2 separate regions of the Homo sapiens genome follow, and region 1 is linked to region 2. Evidence: fine-mapped expression QTL. A gene starts in region 2. The other region holds a variant in brackets. All regions are shown on one strand. Distances are from middle to middle. Region 1 overlaps USP49 (ubiquitin specific peptidase 49). Region 2 holds the start of TOMM6 (translocase of outer mitochondrial membrane 6).

What was found. PIP is the estimated chance that this variant, and not a neighbour inherited with it, causes the effect.
Region 1: its variant is fine-mapped to the expression of TOMM6 in T cells (TOPMed, PIP 0.99).

Annotation. Positions count from the first base shown.
Region 1 is chr6:41,848,053-41,853,577 of GRCh38, forward strand. All of the region lies in intron 3 of USP49 (ubiquitin specific peptidase 49), which reads right to left. Among named protein-coding and RNA genes, the nearest start is that of USP49, 45 kb to the right of the region's middle. The variant A/T (reference allele first, on the strand shown) is at 2,406.
Region 2 is chr6:41,785,133-41,790,260 of GRCh38, forward strand. TOMM6 (translocase of outer mitochondrial membrane 6) reads left to right here and starts at 2,562. Exons shown (of 3, transcript NM_001382294.1): 1 at 2,562-2,693; 2 at 4,100-4,204; 3 at 4,436-4,763. The coding sequence starts at 2,566. The coding sequence ends at 4,196. It overlaps PRICKLE4 (prickle planar cell polarity protein 4), which reads left to right. Exons shown (of 8, transcript NM_013397.6): 6 at 205-408; 7 at 996-1,200; 8 at 1,630-2,320. The coding sequence ends at 1,997. It overlaps USP49 (ubiquitin specific peptidase 49), which reads right to left. Exons shown (of 8, transcript NM_001286554.2): 8 at 4,764-5,128. RefSeq lists a silencer at 1,110-1,629 and enhancers at 2,250-3,249, 2,320-3,009.

The sequences.
Region 1 (5,525 bases), 63 kb after region 2:
CAAGGGAGTTTCCATTCCCAGATTTACCAGCAGAAACTCCAAAGAAGTAGTTTTCTGTATGTGAATGAAGTTTTTAACAATTTAAAACAGAATGCTGTAACTTTAAAGATGATTTATGCAATCACAACAATAAACACAAATAAAGTATCTATAGAATATATATAATAGGAAATGAGAAGAGAATCAACATACATCGCTACAAAAAAAATCAACAAAACACGAAAAAGGCAGTAAAAAAGAAGGGACAAAAAAGCTACAAAATATACCAAAAACAATTAACAAAATGGCAATAGTAAATCCTTCCCTCCCTATTGGTAGCCTATGTTTTGTTTTAGATAGGCTCGCACGCTGTTACCCAGGCTACAGTGCAGTGGCACTATCATGGTTCAGTGCAGCCTCGACCTCCTGGGCTCAAGCAATCCTCCTGCCTCAGCCTCCTGGGTAGCTGGGACTATGGGTGCATGCCACAACATCTGGCTAATTAAAAATATATATATATTTTTTGGAGAAATAGGGTCTTCCCTGGCCGGGTGCAGTGGCTCACACCTGTAATCCCCGCACTTTGGGAGGCCAAGGCACACGGATCATAAGGTCAGGAGATTGACACCATCCTGGCTAACATGAAACCCCATCTCTACTAAAAATACAAAAAATTAGCCAGGTGCAGTGGCAGGCACCTGTAGTCCCAGCTACTTGGGAGGCTGAGGCAGGAGAATGGTGTGAACCCGGGAGGCAGAGCTTGCATTGAGCCAAGATCGCGCCACTGCACTCCAGCCTGGACAACACCAGTGAGACACCGTCTAAAAAAAAAAAAAAAATGAGAGAGAGAGAAATGGGTTCTTCCCTATGTTGCCCAGGCTGGTTTCTAACTCCTGGCCTCAAGTGATCTTCTTGTCTTGGCCTGCCAAAGTGTTGGAATTACAGGCAGGAGCCACCATGCTGGGCCAGTAATTAACTTTAAATGTAAAGTCATATATTGACTGGAGTTAAAAAAGGATCCAACTATATGCTGTCTACAAGAGACTCACTTTAGCTCTAAGGACACATAGATTGAAAAGTCTGGAAAAAGATATTCCATGCAAATGGTAACCAGAAGAGAGCAGGAGTGGCTATATTAATGTCAGACAAAATAGATTTTAAATAAAAAACTCTCATAAAAGATAAAAAATGACATGATAAAAGGGTAAACCAGGAAGATATACAATAATAAATATTTATGCTCCAAACATCAGAGCTTCTAAATATATGAAATAAACTTAGACAGAATTGAAGGGTAAAAGAGCAACACAATTACAGTAGAGAACTTCAAAACTCCACTTTCAATAATGGACAGAACAACCAGACAGAAGATCAACATGGAAAGAGAGGACCTGAACAACATTATACACCAAATGGACCTAATAGACATATATAGAGAACTCTACCTAACAACAGCAGAATATACATTCTTCTCAAGTGCACATGGAACATCTCTAGGAAAGACCAATGTTAGGCCACAAAACAAATCTTAACAAATTCAAGAAGACTAAAATCACACAAAGTATCTTTTCTTTTCTTTCTTTTTTTTTTTTTTGGAGACTGAGTGTTGCTCTGTTGCCAGGCTGGAGTGCAGTGGCATGATCTCAGCTCACTGCAACCTCTGCCTCCCGGGTTCAAGTGATTCCCCTGCCTCAGCCTCCCAAGTAGCTGGGATTACAGGCACGCGCCGCCACGCCCAGCTAATTTTTTGTATTTTAGTAGAGACAAGGTTTTACCATGTTGGCCAATATGGTCTTGATCTCCTGACCTCATGATCCACCGCTTCGACCTCCCAAAGTGCTGGGATTACAGGCATGAGCCACTGTGCCCGGCACAAAGTATCTTTTCTAATGACAATGAAATGAAACTAGAAATCAATGGCACAAGGAAAACTGGAAAATCCACAAATATGTGGAAATTAAACAATCCACTCTTAAAATAGCCACAGGATCAAACAAGTCACAAGAGAAGTTAGAAAATACCTTGAGACAAATAAAAATGAAAATGTATCAAAACATATGGGATACAGGAAAAGCAGTGTTAAGAGGTCAATTTATGGTTGTAAAAGCATATATTAAAAAAGAAGAAAGGTCCAGGTGCGGTGGCTCATGCCCGTAATCTCAGCACTTTGGGAGGCCAAGGTGGGCGGATCACCTGAGGTCAGGAGTTCAAGACCAGCCTGGCCAACATGGTGAAACCCCATCTCTACTAAAAATACAAAAATTAGCCAGACAAGGTGGCACACGCCTCTAGTCCCAACTACTCGGGAGGCTGAGGCAGGAGAATCGCTTGAACCTGGGAGGCAGAGGTTGCAGTGAGCTGAGATCGTGCCACTACACTCCAGCCTGGGCAACAGAGTGAGACTCAGCCTCTAAGGAAAGAAAAAA[A/T]AAAAAAATAAATAAATAAATAATATAAAATAAAATCAGAAATGAAAGGGGAAATTGTAACTGATGTCACAGAAATAAAAAGGATTATAAGAGACTACTATAAACAATTGCACACCAACAAACTGGATAACCTAGAATAAATGGATAAATTCTTTTTTTTTTTTTTGAGACAGAGTCTCATTCTGTTGCCAGGCTGGAGTGCAGTGGCGCCATCTCGGTTCACTGCAACCTCCGCCTCCTGGGTTCCAGCAATTCTCATGTCTCAGCCTCCTGAGTAGCTGGGACTGCAGGTGCGCCACCACGCCCAGCTAATTTTTGTATTTTTAGTAGAGATGCGGTTTCACCATGTTGGCCAGGCTGGTCTCGATCTCTTGACCTCCTGATCCGCCCACCTCGACCTCCCAAAGTGCTAGGATTACAGGCGTAAGCCACCGCGCCTGGCCATGGATAAATTCTTAGAAACACACAACTTACCAAGACTGAATCATGAAGAAATAGAAAAGCTGAAAAAAACCAATGAGTAAGGAGATTAAATCAGTAACCAAAAAACTGCCAACAAAGAAAAGCCCAGGACCAGATGGCTTCACTAGAGAATTCTACCAAACATTAAAAAATAATGAATGCCAAGTTTTCTCAAACTCTTCCAAAAACTGAGGAGGAGGGAACACTTCCAAGCTCATTCTATGATGCCAGCATTACCCTGACACTAAACCAGACACAGACATCAAGAAAAGATAACTACAGATGAATATTCTTTGTGAGTATTGAGGTAAAAACCCTCAACAAAATACTGGAAAATTCAGTAGCATGTTAAAAGAATTACATATTATCAATAAGTAGGACTCATTTCTGGAATGCATGTATGATTCAACATATGAATATCAATCAATGTAACACATCACTTTAACAGAATAAGGACAAAAAGATGACCATCTCAATTGATGCAAAAAAGGCACTGGACAAGATTCAACAAAACACCCTTTTATGACAAAACATCAAACAAAGTATAAATAGAAGGAAACTGCCTCAAAATCATAAAGACCATGTATGAAACCCTCACAGATAATATCATACTCAGTGGTGAAAGAATAAAAGCCTTTTCTCTAAGACAAGGAACAAGCCAAGCATGCACACTCTCACTACTTCTATTCAACATAATGTTGAAAGTTCTAGTCAGTGCAATTAGGCAAATTGGAAAAGAAGTAAATTTACCTGGGCTGGGCAAGGTGGCTCACACCTGTAATCCCAGCACTTTGGGAGGCCAAGGCAGATGGATCACGAGATCAGGAGTTCAAGACCAGCCTGGCCAAGATGGTGAAACCCCATCTCTACTAAAAATACAAAAAAATTAGCCAGGCATTGCGGCGGGCACCTGTAATCCCAGCCACTCGGGAGGCTGAGGCAGACAACTGCTTGAACCTGGGAAGCAGAGGCTGCAGTGAGCTGAGATCGCGCCACTGCACTCCAGCCTGGGAGACAGAGCGAGACTCGTCTCAAAAAAAAAAAAAAAAAAAAAAAAGAAAGAAAAGAAGTAAATTTATCTGTTCTCAGATAACATGATCTAATATATAGAAAATCCTGGGCCGGGCACGGTGGCTCACACCTGTGCTGTAATCCCAGCACTTTGGGTGGACGAGGAGGGCGGATCACCTGAAGTCAGGAGTTCGAGACTAGCCTGACCAACATGGTAAAACCCCATCTCTACTAAAAATACAAAATTAGTTGGGTGTGGTGGTACATGCCTGTAATCCAAGCTACTTGGGAGGCTGAGGCAGGAGAATTACTTGAACCCAGGAGGCGGAGGTTGCAGTGAGCTGAGATTGTGCCCCTGCACTCCAGCCTGGGCAACGAGAGTGAAACTCCATCTCAGAAAAGAAAGAAAAAGAAAATCCTAACGAGTTTGCAAAAAAATTGTTAGAATAGACAAATTCAGCAAAGCTGCAGGATTCAAAATCAATATGCAAAAATCTGCTGTATTTATATACACTAACAATGAACAATTCAAAAGGAAATTTTTTAAAATCTCATTAATAACAGCATAAAATACACTTAGGAATAAAACTGAGCAAGTGAAAGACTTGGACGATGAAGACTATAAAACATTGTGGAAAGAAATTAAAGACACAAATAAATGGAAAGATATCCATGTTCCTGGATTGGAAGACTTGGTATTGTTAAAATGTTAATCCTACCAAAAGCAATATACAGATTCGATGCAAGCCCTATCAAAATCCCAGCAGCAATTTTCTGAAATACAAAAATTAATTCTAAAACTCATATGAAATTTCAAGAGACCTTGAGATATTTAACACCAATGTTCATAGCAGCACTATTCATAACAGCCAAGAAGTGGAGGCAACCAAAATGTCCATCAATGGATAAACGGATAAACAAAATGTGGTATACACATGAGATGGAATATTATTCAGCCTTAAAAATGAAAGAATTCTGGCCAGGCACAGTGGCTCACACCTGTAATCCCAGCACTTTGAGAGGCCTAGGCGGATGGATCACCTGAGGTCAGGAGTTCGAAACCAGCCTAACATGGAGAAACCCCATCTCTACTAAAAATACAAAAATTAGCTGGGCATGGTGGCCTGCGCCTGTAATCCCTGTTACTCAGGAGGCTAAGGCAGGAGAATCGCTTGAACCCAGCAGGTGGAGGTTGCAATGAGCCGAGATGGCGCCATTGCACTCCAGCCTGGGCAACAAGAGCGAAACTCCATCTCAAAAAAAAAGAGCTGGGGGGGAGAATTTTGACACATGCTACAACATAAATGAGCCTTGTGGACTTTAGGCAAAATGAAATATGCCCATCGGAAAAAGACAAATACTGTATGATTCCATTTATATGAGGTATCTAAAGAAGTCAAATTCATAGAGACAAAGTAGAATGGTGGTTGCCAGGGACTGGGGAAGAGGATGGAGAGTTTTTTAATGCGTATAGAGTTTCAGATTTGCAAAATGAAAACTGTTGCAAAATGAAAAACTTTAGAACTGTTTCACAGCAATGCAAATATACTAAATACTAGTGAACTGTACTCTTGAAAATGAAGGGTTTAAGATGTTAAATTTTATGTTTTTTTACCACACACACAAAAAGATAAGCACTAAAACATT
Region 2 (5,128 bases):
AGAAGGGGCTGGGCTAGCTTCTGGGATTCTGGTTGGGAAACAGGAAAAACAGAAACCAAGTTTGCAAGCTCTTGGTATAGGTTGCAGTGGATGTGGGCTTGCTAGGGTATGGCGAGAACAGGTTGGGATCGGATTGCAAGAGCAAGGAGGGAAGTTAGGATGGTAGTGCTTACTCCGACCACCTCAGCACCTCCCCTCTGACAGTGTAGGGAGCTGCTGAAGCCAGGGGAGTACGGAGTGTTTGCAGCCCGGGCAGGGGAACAGCGCTGCTGGCACCAGCCTTGCTTTGCCTGCCAGGCCTGTGGCCAGGCCCTGATAAACCTCATCTACTTCTACCATGATGGACAACTCTACTGCGGCCGTCATCATGCAGAGTTGCTGCGCCCGCGCTGCCCGGCTTGTGACCAGGTACAGCCTGGAGGGGAGGAACTGGGGGTCTGCCCAGAGTCCAGAGTGGCAGGATACAAAGGGACACTCTCCTGGGCCACAGTTTCTCCCAGTATCAGGGAGTGGGGAGAAGTAGGAACCAGCCTGGGACTACCAAGTTCCCTGTGTTCTGACTTGAGCTCTGGGCATGTAGGACCCAGTGCCCTTCTCTCTGGCCTCCCCCACTGCAGAGTCCCTCAAATGTTCCTGGACTCATCGAATTTCTCTAGAGCAGGGAGTCTTGGACACATGCTCATCTCAGTAGATGCCGAGTGCCCAGTGCTGTGCCTCATCATGCTAGAAATTCCCTTGATGTCAGCATAAAAGGAAGCCTGGAGCCCTGGGTTGGGAGTCCAGACCCCCAGGTCGCACTGGGGATTGTCCCACTTGCTAGCTGGGATCCTGGCTAAGCCAATCAGTCCTCCCTGCGTCCAAAAGTGGCTGAGTGAATTAAATGGGAATGTGTGCAGACGTGCTTTAGCGTTAACTGGGTAAAAGGCGTGGTTACTGGATGAATGAATGAGGGAATGAATGAATGAAACGTTCCCCTCTCCCTCTCCCTCTCCCAGCTGATCTTCTCCTGGCGCTGCACCGAGGCGGAGGGACAGCGCTGGCATGAGAACCACTTCTGTTGCCAGGACTGCGCCGGGCCTCTGGGCGGGGGACGTTATGCCCTGCCTGGGGGAAGCCCCTGCTGCCCCAGCTGCTTCGAGAACCGCTACTCGGATGCAGGCTCGAGCTGGGCCGGGGCACTGGAAGGGCAGGCATTCCTTGGTAAGGGAGAGGATGCAGAGCAAAGCGGGAGGGAGCTTGGGCTGGGCTGTGGGGGTTCTCCCGGGCTGGGACCCTCGCCCCGGTCCCACGCCGTCCCGTCCCTCCAGGAGCGCCCCCACCGCACCCCCCAGACCCAAGCCTCGGGGCCCGCAGCTCTCACCGCGCATCCCTGGCCGGAGCGTTCCAAGGGCCGCCCGAACCCACCCCGCGCCGCGGTCGGGGTTGCGGCGCCAGACTCCCTCCCAGGCGCGGGAGGCGGACGCCCTCTGGTGGAGGCGGGGGACCCTGGCGAGGACTCTCGGCGGCGGCGGCGGCGCGCACGGCCCAGGGGCTGGGCGGGGCGGGAGGCTGGGCCTCACCCCCACTAGCTGCGGTGTAGGTCCAGCTCCGCGGCTCTGAGACCAGCGTTTCCGACCCGGCCCGGAACAGGGGAGACTGGACTCGACCGAACTGAAGGAAGGGACCAAACCTCGGTGAACTCTGCAACCCTCTCCCGAACACTCCTCGCTGCTGCCGGCGGTTCCAGCCTGCAAACTCAGAGGGGGCTGCCTGGATCCAGTCCCCAGCAGGAGAACCGACCTGGGGACAAAGCGGAGGCACCCAAAGGGCAGGAGCAATGCCGCCTGGAGACTATTCGTGATCCCAAGGACACCCCTTTCTCCACCTGCTCCTCCTCCTCTGACTCGGAACCTGAAGGATTTTTCTTAGGCGAGCGCCTTCCCCAGTCCTGGAAGACCCCCGGAAGCCTCCAAGCAGAGGACAGCAACGCCTCTAAGACGCACTGCACCATGTGCTAGTGGCGCAGCTCAGAGAGGGGATGTGAGTGGGAGGAAAGGGGTCTGTAAAGCGGGAGAACAAGGCTAGCCTCCCCCTAACAATCCTAGACTGAGACGCAGTCAGGCGCACGCCCGCAAGAGGCGGCGAGGTGACAAGTTTGGAGTGCGCCCCCTTCAGTACTGCGCGTTCTAAGACTTTTGGCGGAGACTTTCTTGGCAAAACCCATTCCCCAAAGCTACGCTTCCCCTGCTGAGATAGCCCCTACCCCCACCTCCACAGGCTGGGACAGCCCCGTCCCCACCATCCTCCTCCCAAGCCAATTAAATGATCACAGCACGCGTGACAGTTACCGGCTGGAGAGCCGGAGGTGGGACCGGGAGCAGGGGACCGTAGAACCGGGCCGCGCTCCTCCCCTCCTAGAGTTCGTGGAGGCGCAGCAGAGGGCCGTCCCTCTTCCGGATGTCGGACTAAGCGAACAGCGCCCCCACTGCCGGCCGGTAGCAGCCGGAAGTGCCAGACCGGAGGTGCGTCATTCACCGGCGACGCCGATACGGTTCCTCCACCGAGGCCCATGCGAAGCTTTCCACTATGGCTTCCAGCACTGTCCCGGTGAGCGCTGCTGGCTCGGCTAATGAAACTCCCGAAATACCGGACAACGTGGGAGATTGGCTTCGGGGCGTCTACCGCTTTGCCACTGATAGGAATGACTTCCGGAGGTAACCGAGCCCGAGGAACTTGGTCCTTTTCTGGCCCTTAAATCCGTATTTCCCCTTTCTTGCGAGGCTGGCGCCTCAGGGTTTTTTGTTTTTGTTTTTTAACATTACCAGCATTGTGGCGTCTTCGTAGCTCTGGCTGTGCCTCACTGAGATCCCTGGCCAGGAGAGTTCCCGTGTGGCAAAAGCGATCTTTCTGTCATGTGGCTGTATCTGTAATGTCACCCTGATCAAGGGAAGAAGTGCTAGCACGTAAACAGGCTTTTTCGGCCCTGGACTAGTGCTTTAGCTGGGCTTTGCGTTTGATCTTACATTTCTTTTTTGTTTTTTTTTTTTTTTTGAGACGGAGTCTCACTCTGTTGCCCAGGCTGGAGTGCAGTGGCGCGATCTCGGCTCACTGCAAGCTCCGCCTCCCGGGTTCACGCCATTCTCCTGCCTCAGCCTCCCGAGTAGCTGGGACTACGGCCGCCCGCCACCACGCCCTGCTAATTTTTTGTATTTTTAGTAGAGACGGGGTTTCACCGTGTTATCCAGGATGGTCTCGATCTCCTGACCTCGTGATCCGCCCGCCTCGGCCTCCCAAAGTGCTGGGATTACAGGCGTGAGCCACCACGCCCGGCCTTTTTTTTTTTTTTTTTTTTTTTTTTTGAGACGGAGTCTCACTCTGTCGCCCAGGCTGGAGTGCAGAGGCGCAATCTCGGCTCACTGCCCCTTCTGCCTCCCGGGTTCAAGCGATTCTCCTGCCTCAGCCTCCCCAGTAGCTGGGATTACAAGCGCGCGCCACCACGCCCAGCTAATTTTTGTATTTTTAGTAGAGACGGGGTTTCACCATCTTGGGCAGGCTGGTCTCAAACTCCTGACTTCTCGATCCACCCGACTCTGCCTCCCAAAGTGCTGGGATTACAGGCGTGAGCCACCGCGCCCGGCCACATTTATTTCTTTTTGAGACAGCCTCGCTCTGTCGCCCAGGCTGGAGTGTAGTGGCGGACCTCAGCTCACTGCAGCCTCCGCCTCCCGGGTTCAAGCGATTTTCCTGCCTCAGCCTCCCCAGTAGCTGGGATTACAGGCGCGCACCACCACGCCCAGCTAATTTTTGTATTTTTAGTAGAGACGGGGTTTCACCATGTTGGCCAGGCTGGTCTCGAGCTCCTGACTTCGTGATCCGCCTGCCTTGGCCTTCCAAAGTGCTGGGATTACAGGCGTGAACCACCGCGCCCAGCCTGACCTTACACTTACTAGGCACAAAAATGAACTCCAAATTCCCACGTGGGTCTTGAGCAACCTGCCGTCACAACCACGTATCAACGCCTCGGGAAGGTGGTGATGGAAGCCTTTCCCCCCAGTACATTTCGTTAACTGTACAACTGACTCAGTGACCACAGGGTTAATAAAACACATTGTTTTTCCAGGAACTTGATACTAAATTTGGGACTCTTTGCTGCGGGAGTTTGGCTGGCCAGGAACTTGAGTGACATTGACCTCATGGCACCTCAGCCAGGGGTGTAGCCAAGTAGGTAAGCACTGAACTACACCCATGCGTGTCTTAGGAGACCTAGAGACTGGGTGAAGCAATGTTTTCTGTCAAGTATTCATGAAATGTACAAAAGAATGTGATGTAAAACCCTTAACTATTCCTAGTTAAATGTGTTTTCAGATGTTGAAAGGGATTTAAGTATCTCTTACCAGTTTCCCTCCCATACTTTTACAGTTCTAATGCCACCTGTCGTCTTATCATCTGATTGCAGACAAATGGAATCCTGTGCTGAACCCGAATCTTCCAAAAAACAGCCTACAATCTGTGACCACCACAAGATGTGCCCTGATGGCAGCTGAAGTTTGATTCAGATGGGCACTTTTCTTCCCCTTCCCTGCCTAGTTTCCTTTTGTTCCTTGAGTCCACGCAGAATTCCATTCTCTGGTCAGCAGACAGGCTTAAGCTAAAGTATTGCCTCTATTCTGTAAAGTTCTGTACATAGTTCCCAAGCTTCTGCAGGGGGTGATTTTTGCTCTTGTCCTGAGAAATAACAGTGCTGTTTTAAAAAACATTTGAAATAAATACCGCACACAAAGGCAGTCATTTTATTCTTTTAATAAGAAACTTTTGCTTACAAAAACAAGGTGTAAAAAGATTTACAAAAATCATAAAAACATGATTTATATTTCACACTTGAGAGACAAAAACAAGCCCCAAAACATGGATTTTAATGGAGGTGGTTTGCTTCATTTTAAAAGGGAAAAAAAAAAAAGGAAGCTGTAACCATACATTGATGTTAACCTAGCATGAAGTTTATTCTTGAAGAATTTACATTGTTGAGCAATATTAGGGGAAGAAGCCATTTGGTGTTGCATAGCATTTTAGTGCACCAGATGGGTTTTCCAGACACCAGGGAGGCATCATTGCTGGAATAGTGAGGTTTGGTGGCAGAAAGAGGGCAGTG